Linked DNA regions of Homo sapiens: region 2 is linked to region 1. Evidence: fine-mapped expression QTL. A gene starts in region 1. The other region holds a variant in brackets. All regions are shown on one strand. Distances are from middle to middle.

Region 1 (15,867 bases):
CATAAAATGTAGAAAAATAAATATTTTTAAATCCTATGTCATAACCTATCAGTAAACCATTTATTATGTATTCACCTACATTTCCAGATTTGGTAGCCTCCCTGTAGAGTTATATTTAGCTATATCTCTCACCTATTTTACTAGTCAGTAAGCCTCAAGGGTCCAAATGGTTTATGACTTAGGCATTTTTCCCCCATATACTCAGTGAATAAAACCAAAATTTTAAAAGAATAAACTATTTTCCAGCTTAAAAACCAGAAGATGAATTCCACATCCTACAACAATGAAGAAATCCTTACAAAAAGCACCTTTATTCTCAGTGTATGAAAATGGAAGCCAAAATGACAATATCAATTTCAAGCATTTTCTTTACCTTTCAAAGACTATTTATTTTATACCTAAATGACCTTTTGGATAATAATTCATGGATTTAAAGCAAATCAAGAAAACACATGAAATGATCTGTTAAAATCTGGGCTTCTTGGCCGGGCGCGGTGGCTCACGCCTGTAATCCCAGCACTTCGGGAGGCCGAGGCGGGCAGATCACGAGGTCAGGAGATCGAGACCATCCTGGCTAACATGGTGAAACCCCGTCTCTACTAAAAATACAAAAAATTAGCTGGGTGTGGTGGTAGGCACCTGTAGTCCCAGCTACTGGGCAGGCTGAGGCAGGAGAATCGCTTGAACCAGGGAGTCGGAGGTTGCAGTGAGCCAAGATCGCACCACTGCATTCCAGCCTGGGCGACACAGTGAGACTCTGTCTCAAAAAAAAAAAAAATTCTGGGCTTCTTAACCACCCATACATTGCTACTCACACCATTAATTTCAGAAAAAAAAGAAAGAAGTTTGAATCTGTACTTGGAAGCAAGGTCTTTTGCTATATAACCAGTTTCTCCCCTACCCCATCTTAAACCTTTTCTGTGAATTTACCTTCGCTTCCACCGCTGCTCCCATTTGAATTAGGCACTTAATGGTATCAACCAGACTCTTATTCTTCAGTAAAAGCTCCTGAACTTCAGGTGAATGAGGCTGTTGATTTCTCTGGAGTTCATGGACCACAGCATTGTGGGCTATGACTGCACAGTGAAGGGGAGTCAGGCCTAGAAGAAAAGTATAATCAAGCAGTGGTCAAGCATCCCATCAGGTCTTTTGGTCCTTCTATAATGACAAATGCTGAGGATGGCCTCTAACTTAACCTATAAATGGGCTCCACAAGAACTAGTAAGGCAATCTGAATATTGTCTCTTTTTGGGTCTAATTTTACCTACAGAATATTTTAGCTTTAATTACCTTCCTTCTTAGTATACTTAGCACCCTTAGACCTTATGGTTCCCCCTAAGTGGCTCTGAATCTAATAAAGTTTCAGTTGCTTACCATCATAGTTAGTTGCCTCAAGATCCACAAACTGATTACTTCCCACTGCTCCCTTCTGAATCGCCTGCAGATTTTAAAAACAGACATCTGTTAGCTACATAAGCTGCGCATATACCTATTAGAATCCCCAAGAAATGAATAAGTTAACTCAAAATAGATCATTGCAACAGGCAACCTATATCCGACTTCTAATATCCAACTCTATCTCTCTGGCCTTGCAATGATGGAAGCCTGGTTTGCTGCCTCTTACCTGAAGCACCTGGGAGTGGCCCTTCTCAGCACACACATGCAGAGGTGTTCTTCCCCAGCAGTCTGTGGTGTTCACCTGTGCCCCGATGTTCACCAGATCCTGCACAATGAGATGCTGATTGGCAGCCACTGCCACCTGAAAGGCACTCTGTGGATATCCAGAGGAAAAAAGATATTTTAAACATACAATGTTATCATAACAAGGAATATGAAACTAAACTATGACTGAGGGAAAAACCCACAGAGAGAAAATAAATCCTTTGAATAAGCAATCAGATACTGTAAGACAAGGAAACTAAAGTAAGCCTAGGGTGTGGCTTTATTACTCTCAGTGTTTGGTCAAACAGCTACAAAGTTAACATTAATAACTTCAAGGTTGATGGTAGCAAAAAGTCAACATCTCAAAGTTAATATTAACTAAACTCTCTTGATCTTGAGCTCTAAGATGATCTACACATAAGGCTGGTCATCATTCACTTCACCATGACCCCCTCTTTGCCATTTCAGACTCTGTCAAGGTCCTCACCTGTCCATTGTGCTCTTTAATATCCAGCATGTGAAGTGCATTCATCTTTCTTGCAAGAACATAGGAAAGTGCCCTTCTCCCTTGGGCAACAGCAATATGAAGGAACCTGGGGAACATGGAAAGGAAAGCGGGTGAATCACTTCTGATTTCACTAAGTTGTTCTTTTGAAAAAAAAAAAAAAATCTTCCTTTAGCCCCCTTTTTATATATTGGTACACTCAAATGAAACATTACAAAGCATAATTTGTCTTTTCTGCTACATTGATAATACACCCCAGTTGGAACAGGATGGGTTAGGCTATCAGAAATAAGAAAAAGAAGAATGTCAAGCACCATACTGATCAACTTAAATCTATTATTTTTAATACTCATAAAACCCCTATACAAGAGGTATTATCATTTTACACGTCAAGGAACTGAGACCTAAGGAGGTTAAATAACTTGCCCAAGGCCACAAAGACATCAGGACAGATTAAGATCAATCTACAAACCAACTCACAGTTTATCCCTAATCATGATCTAACTGTTTCTGTTCTATAGACATAGTCTACGCTGGTCTTCCAAACTCAATTAATCAAGAAGATACAGATATTTTTATCAATTTAGAACAGATTATCTGTTCAGCCAAAAAATTTTTTGAAGGAAAACCCTTTCTTGACATACTAGCTATCACTGAGTGGCGGTTTCTATCTACACCAGTCATCTTGGTTAGCCAACCACTAACTAAGGTATACCTTGTTATACCCTAGAAAAATTATATGCTCACTAGTCCAACAAGTGTGGCTTACCTAATTAAGAACATGAGATAAAAGAATACTCACGTGTCACCATCTGCATCCTTTGAAAGAAACTGGTCTTGGGAAATATTTGCCAATTTGCTTTCTTCCTGCTCCACCTGCCACTGAAAAAGTGATTTCCCTAACTGTGTGGTGTTCATTGGATTTCCCATGTTTGAGAATGGCAGTGAAGTGTTTGAAGAGTCAGAGGCCATCTCGTGCCCCACCATGGCCTCACAGGCGCTGCTGGGCATCATGCTGAAGCTGTGCAAGTGAGCATCATTTTGCTGCTGAACACTGGAGGAAGTCTGCATGGGATTAGCAATATTCTCAGATTCCCTTTGATCACCAAGAAGGGAAACTAAGCTTTGGTTTGGGCAAAACTGTGATTCTGGACCATCAAAGAGGTTTGGTTCATAAGCGGGGGACTGGGGAGGTATGGGAAAAGGACTGTATTCCAGAGTTGGTTTGTGGGTGTAGTGTGGCTGCTGCTCTACATGCTGGTTCTGTGGAGAATACTGGTACAGGGAAGCCTGGTCTATCATTTGTTGGGAGCCCCTGACTTGGAATGGTTGGCATTTCTGAGGTGGAGAAAAGACCTGCCCTCCATGGAAGTCCTGACACTGCTCTGCGGGGGAGCTCTGAGGGACCACCACGGGGTTCAGCCAGCTAACTTGAACTGTGTTCAGGGAAACGGGGCTGCATTCATTCTTAATGTTGATAATGTTCTGAAGCAGATCAGCACTGCTCTCCTGTTTGGGTTCATTGAGATGAACATCTTCCATGCTCTCCCCGGGCGTTGGTGTTTGAGGTGGTGTCTGGAAAGAAGGAAAATGCAACTTGCACACTCACTTCCTTCTAAAATTATCCCAGGAATAATTTCCAAAGGATAGTCAGAGGAAAATGGTGAGATACTTACCAAAAATTGGGAATGCAACAGAGCTGGCCTTTTGCAAGCAGGTCCATCAGACAACGAATCGGGCCCTTTCCTTTTCCCACTGTATGATACTGTGTTCTTCAATTCTGTACCCAAAGGAATACAGCCTCTGTCATCATTTTATTTTATAAATGTTACCCATAATTACACTCTATTATTTACTCCAAAGCCCTGAAAAAATTACAAATACAAGTAACTCTTACCTCTGAACTGTTCTATGTTCACACCTTGTGTCTATAAAGAAAAAAGTTTCCAATTTAGTGTATACAAAATGACTTCCTCTTAATATACATCAGTAAGTAGGCTTATCTCTACCACCCTTTATAGCTTACCATAAATCTCTGATATGGTTTTTCTATCAATATTGATTTTCTATATCAATTTTTATTCTATCTTGCGACTTCCTCATTTTCACTTTCACCTTAGCTCAACGCAGGTCAAGATGAAATTAATAAGACCATTTGATTTTTCCCTTTCTAGTTAAAATGTTCCATTTCAGTTGAGCCTCTGAACTTGCCTTCATTTATTTATTCATTGAGTTTCTCTTGCCCACCTACCAGGTGTCTGGCACTGGGCTAAGGAGGATACAACAGACCAGACAAATATGGTCTCTGTCCTATGGACTTTGTCATCTTATGAAAAATTTCAAGTGACTTACTTGATGACTGGACCTAGGTCATCATAATAACCCTGACAGACTAACCCCTCTCCCCAACTCTATACTCAAAACAGAAAAATAGATGTCACCTTAAAATCATCCACAGCTTGGCCAGAAGCCTTCTGTTTATGACTTCGGATGTGCAACAGGAGTTCCTTCACTGAGTTCTTTACCCGAACACCTTGAAAGGGGCCTCTCTGCTGCCTGCCAACCCCCATATGGGGCTCAACTGTTCAAAAGAAAACAAAACATATTCCTGGTTAAATATCTTCACAGACATAAACGTTAATAATCCCAAAAGTATAGCTGTTGCCTAATGTATAAAGTCCCCAAGCAGCACATTGCAAAACCTTTCCAACTTGCTCTGGTCAATCAATGGCCTTGTGAGTCCCGAGCTCTGCTCAAAGGTCCTAAGTTGCCTGATACCTTTCTCCACTGGGTACCCTAAGAAATTAAAGTTCATAAAAATTTGGTCAAGGATCCTCAGAGCCAATAGGTAAACCCAAATTAAGCCTCTCTATCTCTCAGCTCTAACCACCCATGAGAGTGGATCACATTTTTTTCTCAGCCCTAACCACCCATGAGAATGGATGACAGATTTTGCCATCCTGACTCTCATAGTTCTATAATTATTCTTGACTTTGGAAAAACTTTGGGGAGCAAGTGATAAATGATGCACTTTTAGCTTTTTAAACCAATGGTTTTATGTTCACATAGAAATTTTAAAGTCTATCAATTCCGCTTACCTAAGAAGGCACAAAACAACTTCTTTCAAAGATCTCTATGTACGAAAACCTGACAATTAACAACGTCTTAGATTTATGTCTTATTATTTCCTTCAATTCAACTGTGCCAAAAAAGCTGCTTAAATTCACTGAGCTTAAACACATTTCTACATATGCACACAGGATTTCCCCTCATTGACTGTTTTTGGAATTACTTACACAGGTCTTCTAAGTAAAAAGGAAATATGCTTGTTTCACTTTTAAACTTTGAAATACACTTTAGCATTTGGTATACAAGTACAGTACTCCACTTCTGATCACTATTATGTCACAACCTCTTAGTATGTGTGTTGAACACAAATTCACAAAGTCAGGAAATGAATAATTCAGCCGCTCCATCAAGTGTACAAAAATAAGATGGGGCAAGAAACAACGCATAATTTGAACATCTGTATCTATCATAAATACATGAGATAAACAGTTCAATGATAGGGTAAGTGAAACATTAGTTGGCTTTATTTTTAAGTTTAGGGATTTCAAGAGATACCAGAATTGCCAGAATCTAACACAGCATTTTTCTGGAATGACAGCAGTTCATAATCCAACGTCACAGAAAGAAAAAAATGCAGTTTCAGAAATCCCCTGTGGCTGTGTGGTAAACCAAGGGACCAGCAGAACAGTTTCAGCCAGATGAAGGCCAAGTGGGTAAGAAAAGGTCCTAAACACATATTCTTTCTGGATCTGCTACGCAGTGGTTTAAATCGCTTTTCGCATGATTTTAAATGACTTAAAATGAAAATGAGATATCACTTTTTAAAATAAATGACAACCAAAACAGGAGTGGCTAAGAGTGGGAAACACCGGAAAGAGACGTTCTTTAAAATCATGCTAATTACTCTCAACGTTCAATTATCGAGGCGTTTTTCTAGCCTACCCACAGGGGCATCCTGTTTTCCCCCAAATTATGCAACTCGGTTCACTAAGAAAGGAAACCAATTCGCAGCCCATGAAAGATAACATTACGTCTTTCTCTGCTAGATATGGCTTATCCATTTTTTTTAAGGCACACACAACAAAAACAAGACCGCAAAAATTCCGGGCAGACTTCCGAAACTCGCCAAACTAAAGGCATAACTTGAGTTGGTTTTCAGCCCGGCTTCACCTTGATAACAGCAGTTTCCTTTTCTTTGACGGTCAAGTCTTTTTACTGAAAAATTCCATAAAAACTGAGAAATAAGTCATGACCTTTAACGCTATTCCCAAACCCTTATCCTCTGCTACAGCTTTCCACTAAAATATTCACAAGAAGAAAATTACACCTACATCAGACCCCAAATCTCATCATAGTTTATTAATTATGACTCAACAAAGCTGCTTCTTAGAGAGCGAGCGATCTCCTGGTCACTCGCCCGGCAGTCAGAGCTCGGCCGAGCGGTTTCTGAAGCCCCCCCGAGGCCCGCGGGAGGGAGCCGGTTCCGCGGGCCGGCGAAGGGCGTGTAGGTCAGGCAGGCGCCCGGCCCGGGCAAGGCGGGGAGTGGTAATTGATGGCTAAGGTGCGTACGTCCTAGCTCTAAGGAGGGCGCAGGGGCCACCCTCCATCTGGGGAGTCCCGCTCCCAACCTCCTAGGCGTGCGCGCCCCGAGTACGCAGCGGTGCGGGGCCGGCGGGTACCTGGCTGGCGCTCGGCGCGGGCGCCGCCTCTCGACCGGGACTCCACGGCGCCGCAGGAGGACACCGACGAGGCAGAGGAGAAGTCGGAGGAGTCGGAGCCGGGCGAGCCGGGCGCCGAGGGGCCCAAGACCGAGCAGCTGGCGTCGCAGGCGCCCGGGGCGGCGGCGGGCGGCGACGCGCCGTAGAAGTAGCTCAGGTTGAGCGGGCTGGTCATGAGGCCGCAGCCGCCCGCCGCGTCCCGCAGCCCCTCTCCGCCGCGGCTGTCGTCCAGCAGCTTGTCCACAATCATGCTCCCAGGCTGGGCGCTCGAGGACCCCGACACCTGCGCCACCGGCTCGCTGCGCGCGGCTGCCTCCCGGGCTGGCTCAGGGAGCTGTCGGCGGGCGGACGGCGCGGGCCAGTACGGGCGCGGCGCGGGACTGCCAGGGTATTTAACGGGCCGCAGCGCTCGCCGACCTCCCCGGCGCCCGGCCCGGCCATTGGCGGTGCCCGGGCCGCCTCCCAGCCCCTCCTCCGGATGCGTCCGATTTCCAGTAAAATGTACAGGATGAGGCAATGCGCCCTCCGCCCTCCGCCCTCGCCCCGCCCGCCCGGCTCCGCCCAGACCGACCGGTTGTTTGCCTGCCCTTCACCGGGAAACCCCGACAGCGCGCGGCTTCCAGCCTCCCGCTTCCCGCCTCCCGCCTCCCGCCTCCCGCCTCCGGGACCCCGTCCCTCGCCCGGGCCATCCCTGCCCTCTAGGCCCCCGCCGGGCCTGGGCGCCCGGGGAGAGGGCGCGCGGCGCAGGGCTGGGCCTGCAGAGGGAGGCGGGAGTCAGTGGAGGGAACCGGTTGGCCTGGTTCTTGGGGACTGGCAAGTCCTGGAAGGAGCGCGCCCCGCACCCCTCTGCCTGCCCCGGCGCGGCGAGCTGTTAGCCCAGTTAAGGCATCTCTGGAAGGTTCTTAAGGGCCTGTCTCCTCCGGCGCCCCAGCGTAGCCTCCCTTCTCAAACATAGCGTTTGTCGACGGTTTTAGGCAACATCCCGAACTGAAAGAGATGTTGGAGCATTTTTATGTTCTCAAATTATCTGCTGGGACGCAAATAATGTTTTAGGTGCAGCCATGAATAAAAAGTAATGCCACACTTCTGTATCCTTCAATACTAGAACAAAGCCATCTTAGCAAAATAATACACAAACATGTAGGTGCTGTAGTATATGTAGATATAACTTTTAAAATTCTGCATAGCTTTACACTATCTGATAAACTAACACAGTAATTTTGGCCTTTCCTATCTTGAATACTTTTTTCCAATGGATTTATACAACTATTTGTTCAAGTCCAACTAGCAAAAAATGCGGGAATGATAAGGTTAAGTACACACATGCTATGTTTAAATAAACCGATTATGATTAAATAACACGAGGGATACAAAGTTCAGTGAGCCACCTAAAAGGAGAAACAACAGGTCTGGTAGAGGAAAAAGGAGGTCAGGAGGAAAATCTTTGCAGGGGTGGTGGCATTTAAGATAGGTCCTAAAGGATGGGTGGGATTGGGGCCCACAGCATTTACAGAAAGAACAAGAGCAAAGAATTAAGGAGAGGGTTCATATTAGAGTGTATAGTCCCCTTTTACGATTGTCAAGAGGAGAAGATGGCATTAAATATAAAAGATAACTTGGTGCCTTTGGGTGGAGCACCTCCAGCAGCTGAGACACTGGAATTTTATTTAATAAACATTGAGAAAACATGAATTTTAGGTAGGCAAAATTAATCTGCAAGCAGTTGAGAGAAGATGAGGAGCCCAGAGGCCATTAGGATCCACTGCAGTAGCCCAGGAGAGAAATGACTGGGCACTGGGGCAGATACAGTGGGAAAGGAGAAAGTAAATTGACAGAAAGCAGAGCTGGGCAGCATTGCTAGGGCAGAACCCACAGGTCTCGCTCTTTTGGAGGGGGGGAGAAATGAAAGGGTCCCCAGTCAGGCCATGGCTTGGAGCCACGACCAGGTGAACAGGGCCACCAGCTCCAGATCACAAGGGATCACAGAGCAGAATGTTTGGGTTTTAGGACGAAGGGGGGGACACGATGAGTTTGGATTGTTACTCAGTATTAGTAGGTGGCATAAGACCCTGGTGGGGGTAGGTCCAAAGTAAATACAGCCATACCCCACAAAATGATGTTTAAGTCAATAATGAACTCCATGTACAATGGTGGTCCTGTAAGACTGTAATACCATATTTTTACTGTTTCTTTTCTATGTTTCCATATGTTTAGATAGACAAATACCTCTGTGTTACAGTTGCCTACAGTATTCAGTACAGTAACATGCTGTGCAGGTTTATAGACCAGGAGCAATAGACTATACCACAGAGCCTAGGTGACTAGCAGGCTAGACTATCTAGGTTTGTGCAAGTGCATTCCATAATGTTCAAACAACGACAAAATCACTTAACGACACATTTCTCAGAATGTAGCATCGTTAAGCAATGCATGACTGTATTTCCTTGTTTCTCACAAGTGTATTTCCCTAAAACTTCTTGCTGCCTCTCCCTCCAACTTTTTGATAACTTTAAAAAATAAAAAAGAAAACAAATCCCTTGGTTTATCTGTGGAAAACACAAGACTTCAGTAATTGCAATTCCTTGGAAACCAAAATCATTTAAAAGATGCTCCAAATAAGATGTTGAGTGTGATGGTTAATTTGATGTGTCAATTCGACTGGATTAAGGCATGCCCAGGCAGCTGGTACAACATCATTTTGGGGTATGTCTGTGAGAGTGTTTCTGGCAGATATTTGCATTTGAATCAGTAGACAGAGTAAAGTAAGATCCCCCTTCGCCAATGCGGGCAGGCATTCTGCAATCCACTGAGGGCCAGAATAGAACAAAAAGCCTGAAGCTATCTTCTTGAGCTGGGACATCCATCCTTTCCTACCCTTAGACATCAGCACTCCTGGTTCTTGGGCCTTCAGACTCTGACTAGGACTTACACCACCAGCTCACCTGGTTCTCAGGCCTTCAGGCTTGACCTAGAACTGCATCACCAGCTCTTCTGGTTCTTCAGCTTATGGATGGCAGATGGTGGGACTTGTTGGCCTGCATAATTGTGTGAGCCAATCCTTCATAATAAATCTCTTTCTACATATTTATATGTACCCTATTGGTTCTGTTTCTCTGGAGAACCCTAATACATTAGAGTTTCTCAATAAAATCTATTTGAATTTTGTTTTCTACCCACCAATATTTTATGTATAATAAAGGATTTAAATGCCCATTCAAATAAATCCGTAGAAAGTAATTTTTTACAAAATTAATTATCCTCCTGTTTTAATTAATTATCTTCCCATTTTACATGAGATATGAAAATTCAAGCCACAAATTCATGGCCTCTGGAGAACTTAATCTAGACCAAGATGGTCAACAAAAGACTAATGTTTCAAAACGAAGTTTTCTGTGCAATGCCAAAGCAATAGTACTGTTTGACAAGACCACAACCCCCAATGCCCAGAAGCCCTCCCATACACATCAAAAACAGTTAATATCGCTACAAAAAAATTTAAATGTACTTTGCTTTATGTAAATGTTGAAATACAAATTCAGTTTGATCTATTAAGTCGAATGATAGGATGCTGCCATTGTTCTAATCAAATATGGTTGAACACTCATGCTGTGGGAGACAGCCACCATGTTACGAGGACACTGTCTGGAAAAGTCAACTGAGGCCAACAGCCAGCACCAATATGCCCGCCATGTGAGTGAGCTACTTTGAAAGTAGATTCTCCAGCTGCACATCGGGCCTTCAGATGACTGCAGCTCTGGCCAACATCTTGACTATAGTCTTACGAGACACTTTGAACCAGAACCCTCAAAAACACTCAAGAGATTTCTGATGCACAAAAACTGTATACGAAATATGGGGCCTTGAGAATTTGTCCAGTTACACTGCTCCATCGAAAGCAAAGAAGAGATTGAAATCTTCATCTAACTGACTCTGAAGCCTCATCTTTTGCTTTAAAAAACGAGATTAGAGGATTCATTTACTCCAGGCTCAGAGGTACTGTCTACATCTAAAGATACTGAAAAAGATGAAATGATACATCAGAGAGTTCTGTGACAACTCATAGAGGGGAGAAATCTAATCCAAAGCTACTGGAAGAAACTGTAAAGAAGAAATAAAAATATGAGAACGCTATCTTTCCCCAGGCTTTATAAATGTTAATAATTTACCTTATTGTATCTTATGCAATAGAACATTTTTTAGTTTTATGGTGTCAATTAACATTGTAACACTATCTTGAGACCAATAATCCAGAGTTTCAAAAAAGGAATTGAGGGCTGGGCTGGGTGCAGTGGCTCACGCCTGTAATCCCAGCAATTTGGGAGGCCATGGCAGGAAGTATTGCTTGAGCCCAGAAGTTCAAGACCAGTCTGGGCAATATAATGAGACCCCATCTCTACATAAAATAAAAAATTTAAAAATTAGCTGGGCATGGTGGCACATGCCTGTGGTCCCAGCTACTTGGGAGGCCGAAGTGGGAGGATCACTTGAGCCCAAGAAGTCAAGGCTGCAGTAGGCTATGATCATACAACTGCACTCCAGCCTGGGTGACAGAGCAAGACCTTGTCTCAAAAAAAAAAAAAAAAAGGAATTGGATTTTTTTTTTCTTTTTTTGAGACAGAGTCTCGCTCTGTCACCCAGGCTGGACTGCAGTGGCACGATCTTGGATCACCACAAGCTCCGCCTCCCGGGTTCACGCCATTCTCCTGCCTTAGCCTCCCGAGTAGCTGGGACTACAGGTGCCCGCCACCACGCCCGGCTAATTTTTTGTATTTTTAATAGAGACGGGGTTTCACCGTGTCAGCCAGGATGGTCTCAATCTCCTGATCTCATGATCCCCCACTCCTCAGCCTCCCAAAGTGCTGAGATTACAGGCGTGAGCCACCGTGCCCGGCCAGAATTGGATTTTTAAGTGTAGATGTAATGAACTTTTGAAAAGCCAAAGACAATTTGGAACAGCTTTTCAAACTTGAGATGAAAAAGCCAGTATCTTACAGGATAAGTTATTGTACTGCTTTGGCTGAAGAAATGAACATCATAGGTGAAAGACCAATAAAGCCTGGTAGAGTTTATTTTGCTGAATATTTTCTAGATGAAAAGTCAGCAAAAGAAATCACAGCACTGCCACTTTGCAACAATGCAGCAGCTCACTGAATTAAAGACTTAACTGCAAACTGGTTTTGTCTGCAAAATTGCACTTTTGCCTTAGAAATGGATAGATCTATGGACTGTCTGGACTTGCTATTTCGGTTATATTCATTTCCAGCACCGGCCAGTCATCAAAGGTGTTTTATTTTAATGCATGACAACAAACACAAGGAATGCTGAAACATTCAAAATGTACAATAACTTTTCGAATCTCATCATTTATCCTGAAACAATTGTGTTTACATTTGAAATGATGGTACAAAAGCAATGGGTATAACTAATGGTGCCTTAAAACAAATCAAGGCAGCAGCAACAAAATGAACTAGTAATCATTGTATTCTTCACCACTGTCTACTTGCAGAAAGAAAAAGAATAAAAGCCAGTTTCACCTAAAAAGTCCTGGATGAAGCAGTAACAATATTAATTGACTCTTGTATACATCATTTTAATATTTTATGTGGCAAGATGGGAAATATGCATAGAAGTTTGTGCTGCATCCTGAAATATGACAATTGTCTCAAGGAAATGCACTTGTCTATTAGCTTGAACAGTATGTCATTGCCATTTGTTCTAATCAAATACTGTTTGAGTTGTGAGCTGAACTGCCCTCTGTTTTTCATGGAACACCAATTATACTTGACTGACAAACTGTTTCAGACTCAGGTATTTGTCAGTTTTTGGTTTGGTTTGGTTTTGTGTTTTAATGAACAAAGTGAGCCTGTCATGTTAAGGAAAATAACAGTATTTGTTGCCAATAATAAAATTCAAGTTTTTCAATAAAAATTACAATTTTGGGAAACTTCTGTTGGACACCTTGAGCTTGATAGCTTCCTAGTTCTAGAAGACTTTTTTGATGAGCCCAGTGATGATGCGCTATTAACAAATGTGATTTTTTTATATTATATAATGAAATGTGGCAACATTTAGAAAATTTGCATAACTCAATTAACTAATAATTTCCAAATGAACAATGCAAGACATTATAAAATCACACATGGGTGAAAGAGCCATTCAAAGTGGCCAATGGATTTTAATGTATCAGAAGATGTGGCCAATGGATTTTAATGCATCAGAAGATAAAAAGTTCATTGATATGGTTTCAGGTTCCATCTTGCATCTCTCCTTTAAGGAACTACCACTTGTTTTGGTATAATATTAAATTAGAATATCCAAATTACCTGAAAAGACTATTAAGCTATTTCTTCCTTTACCAACTACATTTGTGTATGAGACCAGATTTTCTTTATACTTTCACCAACATAAGATATTGTGACACATGTTTCTTTTTTAAGAGACAGGGTTTCACTCTGTCACTCAGGCTGGAGTGCAATGGCATGATTATAGCTCATTGTAACCTCTAACTCCTGGGCTCAGTCTCTCCTCCCACCTCAGTCTCCCCAGTAGCTAGGACTACAGGCATGCCCCACCAGGCCTGGCTAATTTTTTTTATTTTTCATGTTTTGTAGAGATGGGGTCTGGCTGTGTTGCCTAGGCTTGTCTGGAACTCCTGGCTTCAAGTGATCCTCCCACCTCAGCCTCCCAAGTCACTAGGATTACAGGCGTAAACCCCTGCACCTGGTCAACTGCAACAAATTAAATGCAGAAGCAAATATGAAAATCTGTCTTCTGTAAAACCGGATGTTAAGAAATTTGCAAAGATGTGAAACAATACTGTTTGCATGAAGTTTTTTTTTTTTTTTTTTTTTTTTTTTTAGAAAATACAGTTTTTAAAAATAAATTAGTAAGTACAGATTTAAATAATTTTTAGGGATCGAATGTAGGCAATGTCCTATCAGTCAACTCAAAAGTTCCAGATTGGACTCATAATTGTTGAACACCTGGTTCTGAAACCCTCCTCTCTTCTCCATCTCTAATTTCCACTATCCAAGACAGGCCTTTATCTCTTACTTGATGCAAATGATCACCCATCCAGCCTTGCCCACTTAAAACCCATCCTCCAGACTGCCATCGGCATACCAATGGAATGCTGGAATGCCAGGAATTCTTCTAAGAATTCCTCCACACCAGGGGTGTTCAATCTTTTGGCTTCCCTGGGCCACACTGGAAGAAGAATTGTCTTGGGCCACACATAAAATACACTAACACTAATGGCAGCTGAAGAGCTAAAAAAAAAAAAAAAAGAAAAGAAAAGAAAATGAAAAAAGAAAAAGAAAAAACATCACAAAAGAATCTCATAATGTTTTAAGAGAGTTTATGAATTTGTGTTGGGCCACATTCAAAGCCATCCTGGGCCACATGCAGCCCATGGGCCACAGGTTGGACAAGCTTGCTCTACACTATTTAAAAATCCTTCAGTGGCTCTCTACTGCTTTTAGCATGGAGTCCAGTCTTCTTAGAATGACAGATGTCCAAGTCCTGCCTTCCTCACAAGCTTCATCTTCCTCATTACCTTCAGTAACACGAAACTGAGTATAGTTTCCCACAGCTCTGAGACTTTGCTCTTGCTGTTCTTCTCTCCTCTTCCTCAACCAAAATCTCATGCTCACTTAATACCCAACACTCACTCAAGACTCACTTAATATCCAACACTTCTGGAGCCTTTCCTGACCCTCCCTTCCTCCCCTGACCCCAACTCTCAACCCCACTTCTGGACTAAGGGCCTTTCCTCTCAGTCCCCACACAGACTTCTATCATAGCTCTTAGGATGTGCTAAAATTAACCATTTATGAGTCTGTCTCCTCTATTCCACTATAAGCTCCCAAGACATGTATCCCTTGTCAATAGCCAAGTACCTGTTACTTAGTAGGTAGTTACTTGGTACATATTTAACTGGATGGTAGAAACAAGTGGAAATGCTTCCAAAATTATTTTATGTCAATACCGTACAGACATCAAAACAAATACTTTGGCCCCTTGAATTAGAATCTCCTCATTCTCTGCACTTGGATTATTATAAAACTATTTTCATCTATCTTGTAAATATAAAAACCCAGCTGCCTTTTGCCCAGAATTCTTTGTAAAGAACATAAAATCTTTCAGGAGCTTTCAAAACAGATATCATCTTATATGTTGATTTGTTGAATGCTTTTCCTTAAAAATAATAATTTATTATCCCCATAGCAATGTAAAACATACTTCAACATCTCAAGAAACATTTAAACTTCAGGGTATTCTAACAGATTTTTCTAATGCAGATGAGTAAATCAGACCACATATTTTCAAATTCTAGTTATTCTTCAATATGGTAGTGCTTTATAAATGTCAGGTACTTTTCTAAGTACTGGGGCACAGCGGTACCTCAGACAAACACTAATCTCTGTCTTTGTGGAGCTTATACCTGGCTGTATGAACATTCTGGTCCATATGGTATCCATGTAATAGAAACAATTACTACTTCTGAGACATATGAACTCAGTTCTACTGGCACTTATATACTTCCCAATAGGCCACCTGACCAACCAGGCTATGGCACAGACAGCTGTAGTTAGTAAGTTCTGTAAGCTTTTTCCTTACAAGAGTGTAACCTATTCTTTTGTATGTTTTAATCTGGAAAGATCAAAAGGTTGTCTTTAAAAGTAATTCTCTAGGTCCTGTTTGCAGCAAATTATTAGCACCTGATATCAAAGCACAGTATACCATATTGAGGAAATTTCTCCAACCAGTAACCTAATCATCATACAGATGAATTAGCAAAAGGTTTGCACATCTCAGAACATCCTGCTCAGTGCTAAGAGAATAAACTTGATACCCCGTTAAGTACTGTATGTATAGTATGTACAACTTTGCATATTATGGACTGATTGTGTG
Region 2 (15,867 bases), 790 kb before region 1:
CGGCCTATTGTGAGACCTCACCTTGTGATTGCGTGAGTCAATACTCCTTAACAAACTCCCCTTTATATATGCATCTACCCTATTAGATCTGTCCCTCTAGACAACCCTAATACAGTGTGGTAGATAATGCATATATAATATACTTTATCTCTAACTGTATGATAGCAGTTACAGCAATTTGCTTTGTATTCCAATTTTTTTTTTTCATTTAGTAGAAATACTAGGTGCCAAGAATAAAATGGTAGCCCAGTAGAAGAATCAAAAAGCTATATGAATGTTTCAAATGACAGCCAGAAATTATCTTAATAGAGATATGTGCAATGTACACTAGTAGCACAAAGGAAGGAACAACCAACTTTCCTTAGCACGGAAGGAACTTCTCAGGAGAAGAGGATATAGTTGGGAAAGTTCTTTGAGATGAATAGAAAATTCCCAACCAGACATTTGAGTAAAGATTGATTTTTAAAAAAAGCATTCTAGTTAGAGGGAACAGAATGCCCAAAAGCAAAGTGGCATGAAATAGCATAAAAGATCAAGATCAGAGAACTACAGGGGAAAAATTAGAGGGCCAATAATGGTATTCAGTAATTTGGTGATTTATGCTCTTGGCAATAGGAAGACTCAAATGCTTCCTTAAAGCAATGGAACAGTATGATCATATTTGCCTCTTGGTGAGATTACTCTGGCCAAAACATGTACAATGGTTAAGTGAAGCCATATTAAAGATAAAACGAGTGGCTTGGAGACTTGTAATAATTGAAGCCTGATCCAAAGAGGGAGAAAAGGATGAAAGGAAGGGACTAATTTGAGAGACCTGTAGGAGGAAAAATGGACAAATAACAATGAGGCTAAATCAGATGGATTTATTTATTTGTTTTGCACTTGGTGTGGGCACTTTCCAAGTCCCTCAGGATTGTTAAGGCAGACTTTATACAGGAACCTCACAATAGGTATAGGAACCACAGCAATGGAATTTTGCACTGAGAGAGAGAGAGACCAGACTCAACTTCAAATATAGCACAGTCAAGTTGGAATTTGTAGCCAAGTAGCAGGGTGGGGGTTAGTGGATGTGAAATTACTAAGAGGAAACATGAGAGGCAAGGGAGATTCTGGCTAAACCAACCTAACAGGATTCTTGCTGAAGACAGACCAGGATGATCCATTGGGTGATGGGGGAGGATAAAGAATTTGATTAGACATTGAGTGTGATCAGATAATCGGGGATAAAGGATTCTAACTAAACTAAGCAAAGTTATTTGCTAAAACTAGATTTTTTAAGGAAATGCACAGGTGGGCTTAGGAGAAGATTCAGGTGCCTGACTAAAGTTTGACCAAGCAAAGAATCCTTGTCAGGATACAACTAAATTGAACAGACACGGAACTTAGGGTCTAGCAGGATAGACTGAACATTAAACAAGCTTTTACTATGAAATGCAAGTACTATTATAGGGTAATATGGGTTGCTACTGCAGCAGACTACAGAGTCTCCAATCCTAGAAGGGAGTTCAGGGAATATTTTCCAGGGAAAAGAAAATCTAAACTGAGACTTAAGAAAGGCTGCAGTGAAGAGGGGTATAGGGGAGACTTGCAGAAAGAGAGGAGAGCACTTGAAAAGACCTTGATGTGAGAAATTGCTCAATAAGAGAGAGAACCTAAAAGAAAAGTGTGCAGAGATAAGGACAGGCAAGAGAGGTAAGCATATGCATCAATTTAAAAAACAATAAAAATTCATTAAAAAGGCAGGAAACAACAGGTGCTGGAGAGGATGTGGAGAATTAGGAACACTTTTACACTGTTGGTGGGACTGTAAACTAGTTCAACCATTGTGGAAGTCAGTGTGGCGATTCTTCAGGGATCTAGAACTAGAAATACCATTTGACCCAGCCATCCCATTACTGGGTATATACCCAAAGGATTATAAATCATGCTGCTATAAAGACACATGCACACGTATGTTTATTGCGGCACTATTCACAATAGCAAAGACTTGGAACCAACCCAAATGTCCAACAATGATAGACTGGATTAAGAAAATGTGGCACATATACACCATGGAATACTATGCAGCCATAAAAAATGAACAGTTCGTGTCCTTTGTAGGGACATGGATGAAACTGGAAACCATCATTCTCAGCAAACTATCACAAGGACAAAAAACCAAACACCGCATGTTCTCACTCATAGTTGGGAATTGAACAGTGAGAACACATGGACACAGGAAGGGGAACATCACACTCTGGGGACTGTTGTGGGGTGGGGGGAGGGGGGAGGGATAGCATTAGGAGATATACCTAATGCTAAATGACAAGTTAATGGGTGCAGCACACCAACATGGCACATGTATACATATGTAAAAAATCTGCACATTGTGCACATGTACCCTAAAACTTAAAGTATAATAATAAAATAAAATAAAATAAAATATATATATAACATAAATTAATGTATTTAATATATTACATTAATTTTATAATATGTAGTAAATATACATTAATAAAAAAATTAAAAATGAATTGCATAATCTCTCCGAGAGAGAGAGAGAGAGAGAGAGGTCAGTAGAGGCCAGAACATGGAGGGTCTCAAGGCAATGTTAAGAAGTTCTGCATTCATCTGAAAGGCAATGCTGAGCCACTGAAACATTTGTAAGCACAGGAATGGTATGTATATTGGTATTTTTAGGAAATCATCCTTGATGTGAGAACTCATTGCAGGAAGGGGCCAGCTCTAGTGTTTACTATGTCATGGTACTCATCACATTTTGCTCAGTTGTATCAAAAACTGTTCCTCCAACTATACTAGATACTTCGTTAAGGCAGAAAAATGTCTTTGTTGTTTATTATTGTTTTCCTAGGCAGATGCTTAATAATTATTAAATGAAATTAAATGAAATTTAAAAGAATAATAAATTTAATAATAAATTTAAAAATAAATTTAATAAGAATAATAAATTTAAAAACAAATTTAATAAGAACAATAAATTTAAAAGAATAAATGAATGAGGTGCAATTAGTATGGCATTATAGGAGACCACAAAGATAATGTGGATTTCTTGACAGGAGTAGGCGTAGCAGAAATAAAGGTAACTGAACACATTCAAGAGATATTTAGAAGTAAAATTGACAGGTCATTGAAAGAGATGGGAATAAATTTATGAAAAGGCAAGAATAGTCTCTAGCTTCCTGCCTCATAAAATTAGGATGATAACAATACCATTGTCAATTGTCTCTCCTTAGCCATCTAACTTTATTTCTCATACTGCTTCGACCCGCAGCTTCATGCTCTTCATCATTTCCACCCAAATCATTCCCGAAACTGCATTGCAAATCACAATTAGCAGTTGCCACCAGATTGTAATCAGTTTCCCTTGAGCTCCTTAAAATCAGACTTAAAACTCACATTTTCCAAAAATTTAAACAAAGAAAAAAGTTATGACAAAATTAGAGAAAGATTTGTAAGCAAGGGTAAGAAGGGAAAACACAGCTGAAGCTCAAATGAAAAATGAGACAAAATTGAATGGCCTTCACCGTTAAACATTATCATTGAGAATATATGATGTATAAGACACTAGATAGAGATAATTTAATAATTGCATTATGTTATTTCAAAGATAGGGCACTTATGTCCCATAATGCATAGGTGTATAAAGAATATAAAGCAATATATAATAAGTGCCAAATGAGACGTACAGAGAGAAAGGTTTATATGAAGTCACGATGTAAACACTCTTGTGTACTGAAACACAGGGCAAATTGAAGAAAAGACCTAGGAAGCCCCAGATGTCCTAAATCTCTTCTCAATAGGGCTTTGGATCTCTGCTAACAACTATGTCAATTGCTGTTGAGTGGATTTTCCATCAGGATAATATGATGCACTCCAAGTTCAGTGTTTTTGCTCCAACCTGCAGCTGGCAATATTCCTGAGCAGGCATAGCTAATACCCAACAGCTGAATGTATTTGGATTGTTATTCAAAAATATTCATGGTGCCAAATGTGAGAAGCACTGATATTCATGCTACTCATAAAATGAGCAAATAAGTTATTTAATTTTTCTAGCCCTTATAATCTCAGCACTCTCATATCCTCTTTGCCAAAAAAAAAAAAAAAGGTGCTATCTGGAGACATGGGATAAAATCAGAACCTGTCATCAGGCATACAGAAATTAGACTATTGCCATTAATATTTCTCTCTCAGTTTGACATGTTCACCTTAATGAAAATACCCAAACAGGAAGCAGTTCTCTTCTTAGCTCCTGGAAAAATAGAATGCAAGTTAAAAGCTCCTAATGCTTTTAACATGATTTGTCCACTTTGGACAGTCTAAGGTGTAATGGGAGAAGAAATAAGGAAAAACGAGAGAGATGAAAAAATTGAGAGAAAAAGGAAGAGCAGGAGGCAAAGAAATGACATAATGATTTTTTAAAATCATTTTTGCTGGTAGTAGCCAAAAATGGAAATGTAAAAAGAAAAAAAGCAAGATACCTAAGAAATAAGCCATACTACATGTCTGCATATCTCTTTTACATATGAAACCTCTGTGTGTTTGTGCATATGTGTGTGTGTGTGTGTGTGCATGTGTGTGTTTTGCTGGCAAGATTGGTGTTATTTTTTAGTGTTAATGGAGAAATGGCCAACAACTGTTTCTTCCTGCCAAAGATATTCTCCAAGCAGCAAATTAAATATATATAGAAGAAATGAGAACTAAATGTGCCTTTTAAACAAGAATTCCAGAAAGGGGAAGGGAGATAGGTTAGCAAAAATACACAAATCAAAAACTAACACAGAAATGAGATGGAATAGAAAAAGGAAGGATACACTTAAGTGATACTGGGAGATCCAAATGTCCTGAAGGGAAACAGAATTTAAAATGTAAGAATGTAGGAATTCAAGAGAGAAATATGGGATATAATAACTATATGGAGGTGTGGTCTTTGATAGCTAGATGTCTTCATGTATTTTATTGCTACTTTTTTATAGCAAAGTTTTTATCAATTTAAAATGAACAAGGAACCATAATCAGACTAGCTTTTGCTAATTAAAAGATAAGAGTTTTTCAGCTTATCTTCCATAAGACACTGCAAGCCAAACCCTGTTACAATTATGGAAACTTACTGAGATCTCCCACTCTTATAGCCACCTTGTGGGTCTTTATAGTAAGATGTGGTGGGTAAAGCAATAAGAGAGGCTTATTGGAGAAGCATGGGTAAAAGGGAGTAGTTGACTCAGTTTCCAAAGCAAACTTGAACCAAAACAACTGAGTTAACACATTAACATAAAACTGCCTGTGCATGTCTGTTTATAAAGTCAGAAAAATCAGCAAGTATCTCATTCTCTCTGATTTTTGCATGGCAAAGATAGCTTGTGTTCGGCTCCCTTTAAAACTATAAAACATGCAATTAACAATGGAAATCTGTCAGAAAAATAGGTGTTTTCCACATCAAAGCTGTATTTGAAGAAGTATGGTAGGATGGGATGGAAGGAGGAGGTGAATAAAACTAAATTTGAAGTCCAGTTCTTTTCTTATTCATTGTATGACTTTTGAGTGATTACTTAACTTTTCTGAGACTTGTTTTCCCCTCTTACAAAATTAAGACAATAATACCTATTTAGCAAGAGTGTTTTAACACATGAGTGCATGTAGTCTGTTGATTTAATGCATACTTTTGGAGCACCTTCTATGGGCAAACTGTCAATACTTGTGAAAACATGTATTGATGGTTCAGGGTTGAACAAGCAGAAATGGTCCCTAACCTCATGAAACATTCTATGACAATATAATAAATACATAGATGCCCGATAAATTCCAGCTAATATATTATCTTTTGAAGACGTAAGACATGCACTCAGAGTGAGAGGAATCCCACATACACACCATAAACTACCATCTGCAGGTAGATGGATTTTTACTAAATGGAAAACAAATGTAGATGATTTGGTGTAAATTGTGCTGTTTTGACAGATGTACAGACAAGATTGAGAGTAAGAAAACTGGCTGATGAAAGAGGTATATGAGAAAAATATGTCTGACTTTATATGTATGTATGTGGCTTCTGTAAAAACCCATCGCGATTGCCCTGTTACATATTCAGCAAGATTTCCTAAATTGAAGAAGCAGGTACAGGTTGTGTTTCTGCTCCCCTATGGACTCACTGTGAGTATCAAGAGAAGTTTCAGCTTAATAAAAACAAAATCGAATTTCTCTCTAGGCTGGTGAATAGGTAGCGTTATTTTAGCCCACTGTAGCAGCAGAAAATTGACTTGATCTCACAGTCCATGCTCATCACAGCGCTAAGTCTGGGGAAAATTTCTTCTCCCATCAGGTAACTACAGAAGCTGCCAAAAATAAGAACTTTGAAATTGAGGCTTGTCTTACTTTTGTTTTCAGAAGTCTCTGGCATTTAACTCCAGCTTCTTGGGATGCTGTTTTGCTAGTAGGTAATGCCTCAGAGTAATTATTTCACCCAGAAGAAGAGCCTTTGCAGAAACCCTAAGTAAATGCTGCAAAGCTTGCTTCCTTCATTTCCAAGATTCTGTTTAGGATGTTGTTATTACAGTGACAGATTTGTTGAGCTGGCCTCAAGTTCCAGAGGCCATCTCTAAGTTGAGGCATTAGAGGAGTTCCCAAGAAACCATTGCTCAATTTTGAAGAAATTAAAAGTATGATTAGTTTAGAAATCTCTCGGACAGCAGCAGCCCTATCTCCATACAGGCCAGCAATTGCAAGAGCCCAAATGGAATTTCTTACTGATATTTCAAGAGCATGTCAGCATCTCTATGGTATTTTGAAAAAATAAAACGAAGAAAGTTCAGGGAACAAAGGCTGAATAACTCTTTCCTTGGGAGATGAAATAAAGAAAAGTAGAATGGAGTAAAGGAGGCAAGGAGAATGAGGAAAGTTCTTTACAAGAATATATTTCTACAATAATCAAAAGAGTCTCTTCTTTGATTTTTTGGACAAAGAATCTATTTATGGACAGAAGATATATTTGTATCCAATTCAGTAAATGATACACCAAAGAGAAAAGAGTAGTCAATACTGTTTATTGGAGTTTTGGTGATTTTTATTTTCTTATTTTGCCTTTGATACATTCTCTTTGTACTAAAATAGTATTATGTCTAAGTTGGGTAAATAAGTATGTAGGTTTTAAAATAAGACAAAAAGATAGTCATGATGAATGTGTTTTGTTCCATGACCACTGTCAGGTCTTTCTCCTCAGTCAGCCCCTTGTGATGTAATTCTTTACACCTAGCCCACTAACTCCACATTAAATTCAGGACCTTATTATCTCTACCAATGAAGGAGGCAGAGCTGCAAGTCACAGAAAACACTAAACAAGTATAATAAAAAGGGGAGTAATTTATATAGTAGCAGGATAAGGGCTATGTCTTAGAACACAAAACCAAGAAAAGCAATAGACCTGAAAAGGGATTAGAACCAATAACTGGAACCAAAGTTATACTCTCAACCTGTCTAGGTTTGTTGGTCTCTCATCTCTGCTTCTTTCTATGTATGCTTCATTCACTCTTTCTAAAGTGTCGTCTACTTTTCTGTTCACATAGTGGAAGGTTGGCAGACTCTTCCAACTGGTTCTATTATGCCTCATAGTGGACATATGGGATAAATAGAGAGGGTATGATGGCAATTTCAAGCACTGGCCCCTGTTCATTAGGCAGTCGTCCATCAGCATACAAGGGGGTTGGTTCCAGAACCAGCTCAATATACCAAAACCTAGGAATACGCAAGTCCTACAGTTGTCCCTGCAGACCCTCTGTATATAAAAAGTTGGCCCTCTGTATACATGGGTTTTGCATCCAGTGAATGTCACAGTTTCCATCCAAGTTTTGTAGAAAAAATTCCGTGTATAAGTGGATCCACACATGTTACTCAAGGGTCAACTGTACCTGGATTTTTATTTCTTTCTGTGACAGTAAATTCTCTTCTGATGTCTCCAGGTAGAAATCTTATAGGTTCTACTGCTCTGTGATACGTTACCACCATGAAGTAGTCAAATTTGTTCATTCCTTCTAGGCTTCTTTGGCTGAGAAAAAACTTGAACTAGGACACCCATTTTCAATGTTCGAAGGTAATGAACCCTAAAGATTCATCCTTCCACTCTCCAAAATGGCCATTTTACCTCTTTCCATATTGGGTCCTTGACAAAATATTTTTAAAAAATTAAAAAATGAAAACAAAATAGCCATTTTTGCAACACCTATTTCTTGTCTTCTATTAAAATGTCTAACACTTCTTCAGACATCACTTAAAACATAAAGTCAGATGACAGCCATCTCTTATTCCCACCACCAAACAGCACTGTTCATTTACATATATTTCTGTCTTACCTCGTGTTACAATGAATGAAATTTCTATACGTTTTATCTCATGCCAAACCCTCCATTTACACTCTGTTGAGCACTTTATACATGACTAATCCAAATTGATATTGCTGTAAGCATAAAATTTATGCCAAATTTCAAAGACTTAATATACAAACAGTAAAAAAACTCAATAATTTTATAATAATACATGTTGAAATGAGAATATTTTGGATATCTAAGGTTAAATTTAAAATTTTAAAATTAATTTTACCTGTTTCTTTTTATGCTTTTAATGTGGCTACTAGAAAATTTTAAATTACTTATGTGGCTCACATTATACTTTTTTTTTAACAGTGCTGCTCCAGATCCTATCCTTTCTTTCCTACTCAGGGTCTTCTGTTCTGCCATTATTTACCCGCTTCCAGCAACATCAGTTTCTGTCTCACTCCTGAATCATTCCCATGATAATGGGAATATATTTACAGGAATATATTTCTACAATAGTCAAAAGAATCATTCCCATCAGAATGCAAATTTACTTTTCTTTATTGTACCTTTAAAATAAGAACTTTCTTGGATTTTTCTCTGCATTTCTCTTCAACTCTTCAGTAAAAAAAATTCTTCAAAATATTTATTTGTCTGTAATTACTACCTATATTTCTCTCCTAAAGATCCCTCAAGTTGGGCTTCAATTTCTTTATTCAGGTCACTATGGCATCGATATTGTCTAGTTACAT[C/T]ATCAGTTTTATCTTCTCTTCTTACTCAGCCTCTTGGCAATACTTGACAAGATTGACCACTCACTCCTTGAAATAAATTTTTTCCTGGTCTTCTCTGACTGTACAGTGTCTTTTTGTGACTTCTCCCTTTGTTCCTGACTATAAACACTTCAGTTACTGAAAGCACAATCCTAGACACCCTCATTTATTTTCACTCACTTAAATGTTTTCATCCAGTTCTTCCTTTGGCTTTTAATATTATCTATTTGCTGCTGACTCCAAATCTATTTCTGTACCCAAAATGTGTCCATCCATGAGCCCCAAACCCATAAATCCAGTTGCCTCTTCCACATTTACTCTTGCCAATAGGCATTCCAAGTCCTGAACAACTATACCCATCCTTCAGATCTGCCTTTCCTTCATGCAGGTTGAGTACTCCCAATCCTAATCTGAAAATCTTAAATCCAAAACATTCCAAAGCCAAAACTTTGTCAGTGTGGATATAATGCTCAAAGAAAATAAATGCTCATTTTGGATTTTGGATTTTAAAATTAGAAATGCATAACTGTAAGTATAATGTAAATGTTCCAAAATCCAAATAAATTCAAAATCCAAACCACTTCTGGTCCCAAGTATTTCAAATAGGGGATACTCAACCTGTAATTTCTAATCTCAATCTATGACACCATTGTCTACACAGATGCTCAGGCCACAAACCTAAATGCCATCAGTCACTTCCCTGTCCTTCCCCTGCACCTCCAGTCTGTTCTCCTGGTCACTTTTCAGCATTCACATTGTAGCCCAAGCCACTCTCATGTGTCCTAGAACATCATAAAACCTAGTTCCTTCCTTGGCCCACTTCATTTATTCTTCCTCAAGGCATATAAAGTGTCTTTTTAATATTAAGCTCAAATGAGTTCAGATTACTCCTCTGTTTACAATTTGCAATCACAACTGACATAAAATCCAAATGCCTTAATATGGTTTATAAGGCTATATATGATCTGAATTTTGTAATGTCCCTGAGCTCATTATTCACAATGCTCATCATCTTTTGCTGGACTCTAGCTTTCTGGATTTTTTTCCTGCCCCTTGAACACACCAAACATTTCCTGTCTCAGGGTCTTCACATTTGCTGTTTCTTCTCCTTTTCCCAAATTTGTGCACAGTTGGTCCTTTCTTATTATATGGGCCTCAGCTCAGTTATCCCATTACAAGGGAGAGCCTCCTTGACCATTATAGATAACTCGTACTATCCTTCCACCTTCACAATCACTTCTTTCTATTACTTTATTTCCTTCAAAGAATATATGTTTCTGAAATATTCTGTTAGAATAAAATCTCTGTGAAGAGAAACTTATTTTGTTCACTATTATATCCTCTATGCCCAAAAGAATGCTAAGAATCCATTAAATTCTCAAAAGAAGACAGATCAATGAAGATATTAATTAATAAATGAATGAATGATACAATGAACAGAGGCCAAAAAACAATGAACTGCTCTAGAATTTGTTCTCATGATATGCAGGGAATGCCAGACCCTCAAGGTTCATACTGAATTCTAATCACTGAAGGTGATTTACATTGGGAAATGTTATCAACTCTGTTGAGCATGAAATATACACAAGAAGAACATAGAATGTAATAACCTGGTAAAATTGGGGTCCTCCATCACATCCAGCTTCTCCCTCATACCATTCCAAAAGTCAGAATCCTACTCTTTGCTAACCTATGTAGCTTGGCCACAGATGTGCAAAGGGTCAGAGAATTCAGCAGCTGCAATTAAACACAACGTTTACCTAATTTCTTAATCTGAATTTCAGCAATTTCAGAATTTAAGACATCTCAGACACAGATAGGGATTTTCACAGGACATTTTCATATTTGAAATGTTATATTCTTCTTTGGGTTCATAAATCTTTCCTTTAAAACTCTTTTCTTAAAGAATCAGTGTTAGTGTGTGCCAAGAAAATACAAGGGCCAGTTTATTGTTTCATCGTCGACAAGTAAGACTATCCCTCTGCTTCAAATGATGACATTTTCACTATCCTTAATATTCTACAATTTTTCCCAGGGGTCTATTACTTCCCACTGACTGATAAATGTCTGTCAAGTTACCATTTGATAGTAAGGCACACAAACTCATTTAACTTAAACAAACTGTAAAATGCATCAGAAGAATACCAGAGACATAGCCAAACCTCTCAAAGAGTAGAATCAGTTGAGAACCAAATTCGTTTCTTCACCTCTCTATTTCTCTCTGTAAATCTAGTTATCCTTCTCTCTCTTTCAATAGTGGCTATTTCTCTGATTCTTCATTAACACAGCAGAGACTGACTATATAAGTTTCCTGTTTCCTGCTTTTTATCATCTGGTAATTGAAGTCCTAACAAAAACTCAATCAATTATAAGTTCAAATTTAAAAGTCCTGGTAAGAGAAGTGTATTGTCTTAGCTTGGCTCATGAGAATACCTGTGGTCCAATGGTTACATTTTGGGGTCACCTGATCCACTGACTATATAGCTGTTGCTCTGAGTATAGGCTTTCTGAGAAGAGGGCAAATGTAGGTTTTTTAAGAAGGTAGCGTGGAGGCAGGGAGACGGTGAAGAGTAAAATTCTTTGCACGTCTGGTACAATACCAAAAATGGAAGAAAACCTAGCTTCCATTGACTGCTCATTGCTTCCCTAGAACACTTTGATAATCAGGGACTATGTATTATTTATACTTGCCCATTGAATCCCCAGCACTAAATACTGTGCATTACATACAGGAACCTACATAAATGTAGGTTTAATAAATAAATGGTGAAAAGCAATTTTCACACAAGAAATAATATAGAAATAATTTTCAAATAGAAAAATCATAATCCAGAAGAGAAGAAGAATCATGGAGCTGTGTATTAAAGAAAGGATAAACATTTACTAGAGATTGAGATTTGAGAGCAGAATCTTGCAGAGATATTATATTAGAGAAATAAGATGTATATTCAAAGTGTGTAAATAATCCTTGAATTCTTAAACAGGCAATCTTGACTTTATTAATTAAGGAATAGAAAGCCATTGTGGGAGCTAATGCAATTGCTACTATTACAATCTTCCAATTGTTCTCTAAGATACCACACTCATCTCTCCAGTCTAAGAGAATATCAGTATAACAATGATAATAGATGTGTTCGAGACGGGCAAAATATCCTAATGGAATGTGGAAGATGCTAGGGATAAGTTTCACAATTTTGGCATTAATACCTTCCATCTGTACAGCTTTTCAACTTTATCCACAATGCTTTCATATATTTTCCTTTTTATCTTAAGCATAAGATTACTAATAGAAAGTTTATACTCTACATTAATAGGAGAAGTAATGCTGCATTTTTGTTAACAGAGCAGAGATATTTACAATTGCATTTATAATTGGATGGCACTGAGAGAGCTCAAAGTAAGCTGTGGGCTTTCTGGGATATTTATACATATCACAGAGGAAGGTAAAATGAACAGCCAATTGTTGGCTTCTCAAGCAAATGAAACCATGATAAACCAACACTTAGAGATGTGCTTGCCTCTTAAAAATGTAACTCAGATCTTTTAAATCTATTTGGTGTACTAGCAATTTTGTTTGATTTGAAAAGGAGTATTAAAATGAAATGGATGCCCTTGATTTCTCTACTTTCGGTGGTGAATCTGTTTAGATTGTGAATGGCACAATTCCTTCCATTCAAATCTCTCAAGTTGAGTTCCATTATTTATAACAGTTAAATGTTTTACACTTAATGCATTTTCAGTAAAACTTTACTGATATTTTTCCATTTTACCCTTACAATCATTCTTCATAAAATGTAAGTCAGACAAAAATATATTGTTCAATCACAAAACAGGTATTATGGAAACAAGTTTAAAAACACATTCTTTGCCCCTAACTCATTTCTGGGAGAAACAGCCATGTTATCACAAAGTCATCATAGAATACAATGAGAATTAAAGTTAGTAAAGGGTATTCTGGGAGCTCCTAATACACACTTAGAGGTTATTGTCCACTGGAGAAGATAATGCTCAACCTGGTTTCTTAATGTTAAAATCAAGATACCCGGGTCAAGAGAATAAGCGAGGCTCTTGGGAAAGATGGGGCATTAGAAAGCTCCATGTAAATATGGTTCCTATCTTACAAGTTATCAATAGACGAATTTAAGCCCAGTTAATCAAGGATAAGATAACATTTCCTCTATTTGACCTATGTGCTTTCATGTATCTTACACTATACCTCTTATACAAAAAGATTTTGTGATTAAAAAAGAATGGAAGATTGAAATTATATGATGACTATAAACTACAGAGTTCATTAAAATCGGACTGGAAATGAATATCTGTGGCCCTTATTGTATTTTGATATCATGCTTATCAGTGTTTAAGCACTGTATGTGAATTGTCTCATTTAATTTCACAAAAAAATTAAGGGATATACATTATTATGGTCATTCTATAGATGATACAATTGACGCAGAGAGAGGTTAAGACACTTGCCAAAGACTGCACAGCTAATAAATCAGCAGGATTAGTATTTAAATGCAGTCAGTTTAACTCCAGTATCTGTTCACTTTGATACATGATATGATTCCCAGCCTCATCTTAACACTGATTTAACTAGTTTTGTGAAAGGTATATGTAATAGGCTGATTTTTAATGGTATGCCATTTGTGGTTTTTCTACGTATTTTATGTTGTCAGATAATAATGCAAGTGTGTGTTCGTATTTGAAGAGTTGCCAGAGCAATAATTTCTGAAATAAGAGAAGACTACATACAGAAAGGGCATACATACGCCTGCAAAAATAGAGCCCAAATGAGCAACTCTGAGACCAAACTAAGTAAAATTGTTAGTCTTTAAAATAAAGGAAGACATTCTTTAAACACACAGGAAAAAAAAATTAAGTTACTTATAAGGAAAAATGTTGGATTTGTATTAGAGTTTTCAACAAAAATATTTTTACTGAAGTAAATGTAAGTCAAATATTTTATATCCAGTCAACCTGTCCTTCAGGTATAAAGACCATAGACATTTATTAACTTGCAAGCAATATCTCAAGACTGTTGATTCCAGGAATCTTACCAGAGAAATTTAATAGAAAATAGGCTGCAGGCAACCCCAGAATAATTTCAGAAAATCAACTGAAGATTTGTGTTTGAGCATTAAATGTTTTTAACTCTGACACAAGTATTAGAAGTTGTGTATAAGTATGAAAAAATAATATTAGGAAATAAATGCTCTCACAACGCAGAAAAATATAAGTAATAAAAATGGGAGGAGAAGAGAGAAAAAAGTTTGCAGTAGATAAACCTTGCAGATTGATTTATAGGTATTATTGGAGAGTGAAAGTTGATTACTTAAAGCTAACAAACAAGTACAATATGTTTAGGTACATTTAATGTCACTAATATTAAAGAAAAAATAATACTGGGATATCATAAATGATACAGAAAACCTAAGAAGTATACATAATAGTAAGCTGCATAAATACATTTAACTGTGATTCTTGATTATTTAAAAAATCACTTTTTCCCCAAAGAACATGTAATTATTATGTAAAAATACCCAGTATTAGCTTAAAAGGAGACAGTAACTTTTTCAAGAAAATAGAATCCATGCAAATAGGATTATCTGACCACAATGTAATAAAATTGGAAATTATAACTAAATCAAACAAAAGACTTCTACCTATATATATTTTTAAATACTCTATTAAGCACAATACAAAATTGCCAAATTTCTACAAAATCATAATAATAAAAACATGACATATTAGAATCTGTGGAATACAGATAAAGCAGTACTCAGAGGAAAATTTATACCTTGATACATTTATATCAATAAAGTACAATAAACATAAGTTAACCATATATAATTTCTAAAGCTATTGATTTGCTTATGTCAGTAGAATTATGTATTAATAATCACATCAGTAAAAATGAAGAAAGTCAAACATACAAGTGTAAAATGTACTAATATCCTGATGTAGAAACAAATTTTGTACTTCAATGAAAATCTAAGCATTTCTCATAGTATACCAACTGGGTCTGTCTGATTCTAGTGCTGTTAATTGTTTTTGAGGTATTTTTCACCTTTTTCTAAACTGTAGGTAATTTAAAGGAAAACAGATCATTATACCAAAAATATACATGTACTAGTATGTCACTGCCATGCTCTTCACGATAGCAAAGTCATGGAATCAACTTAGGTACCCATCAATAGTGAACTGGATAAAGAAAATGTGATCTATATACACCATAGAATACTATGCAGCCATAAAAAGGAAATGAAATAATGTCCTTTGCAGTAACATGAATGGAGCTGGCGGCCATAACACTAAGCAGATTAACAAGAGAAAAGAAAATCAAATACTGCATGTTCTCACTTATACGTGGGAAGTAAAGACTGAGCACACATGGACATAAACATGGGAACAACGGACACTATGGGCTGCTAGAGGGCTTAGGGAAGGAGGGCGACATGGATTGGTAAACTACCTATTGGGAACTATGCTCACTACCTCAGTGCAATATGCCCATATGACATACCTGCACATGCACCCCCTGTATCTAAAATAAAATTTGAATTAAAAAAAATTGCAGGTAATTGATAGGTAAACAAACTCTATCTTGCAAGTTAAAATTTTGATTGATATTTCTCCACACTGTGAAGAAAAATTGTCTCCTCGTTTGTAATTTATCTCAATATTCCTTTACTCCATACAAATTTCTGAAATTTTGATTTTTCCATTTAACCGTTTATAACAGCTGTGGTCCCCTCATTGATTAATAAAAGTAAAATATTTTACACATGTGTATT

What was found. PIP is the estimated chance that this variant, and not a neighbour inherited with it, causes the effect.
Region 2: its variant is fine-mapped to the expression of NFKBIZ in prostate (GTEx, PIP 0.98).

What each region holds. Positions count from the first base shown.
Region 1 is chr3:101,840,966-101,856,832 of GRCh38, reverse strand. It overlaps NFKBIZ (NFKB inhibitor zeta), which reads right to left and starts at 7,319. Exons shown (of 12, transcript NM_031419.4): 1 at 6,916-7,319; 2 at 4,609-4,748; 3 at 4,065-4,095; 4 at 3,844-3,947; 5 at 2,970-3,742; 6 at 2,150-2,255; 7 at 1,625-1,771; 8 at 1,375-1,438; 9 at 931-1,100. The coding sequence starts at 7,204. RefSeq lists silencers at 7,421-7,592, 6,641-7,840, 13,914-14,208 and enhancers at 7,334-7,628, 7,423-8,260, 9,719-9,848.
Region 2 is chr3:102,633,822-102,649,688 of GRCh38, reverse strand. The region is part of intron 9 of LOC105374016 (a long non-coding RNA gene); the gene reads left to right. Among named protein-coding and RNA genes, the nearest start is that of ZPLD1, 210 kb to the right of the region's middle. The variant C/T (reference allele first, on the strand shown) is at 9,053.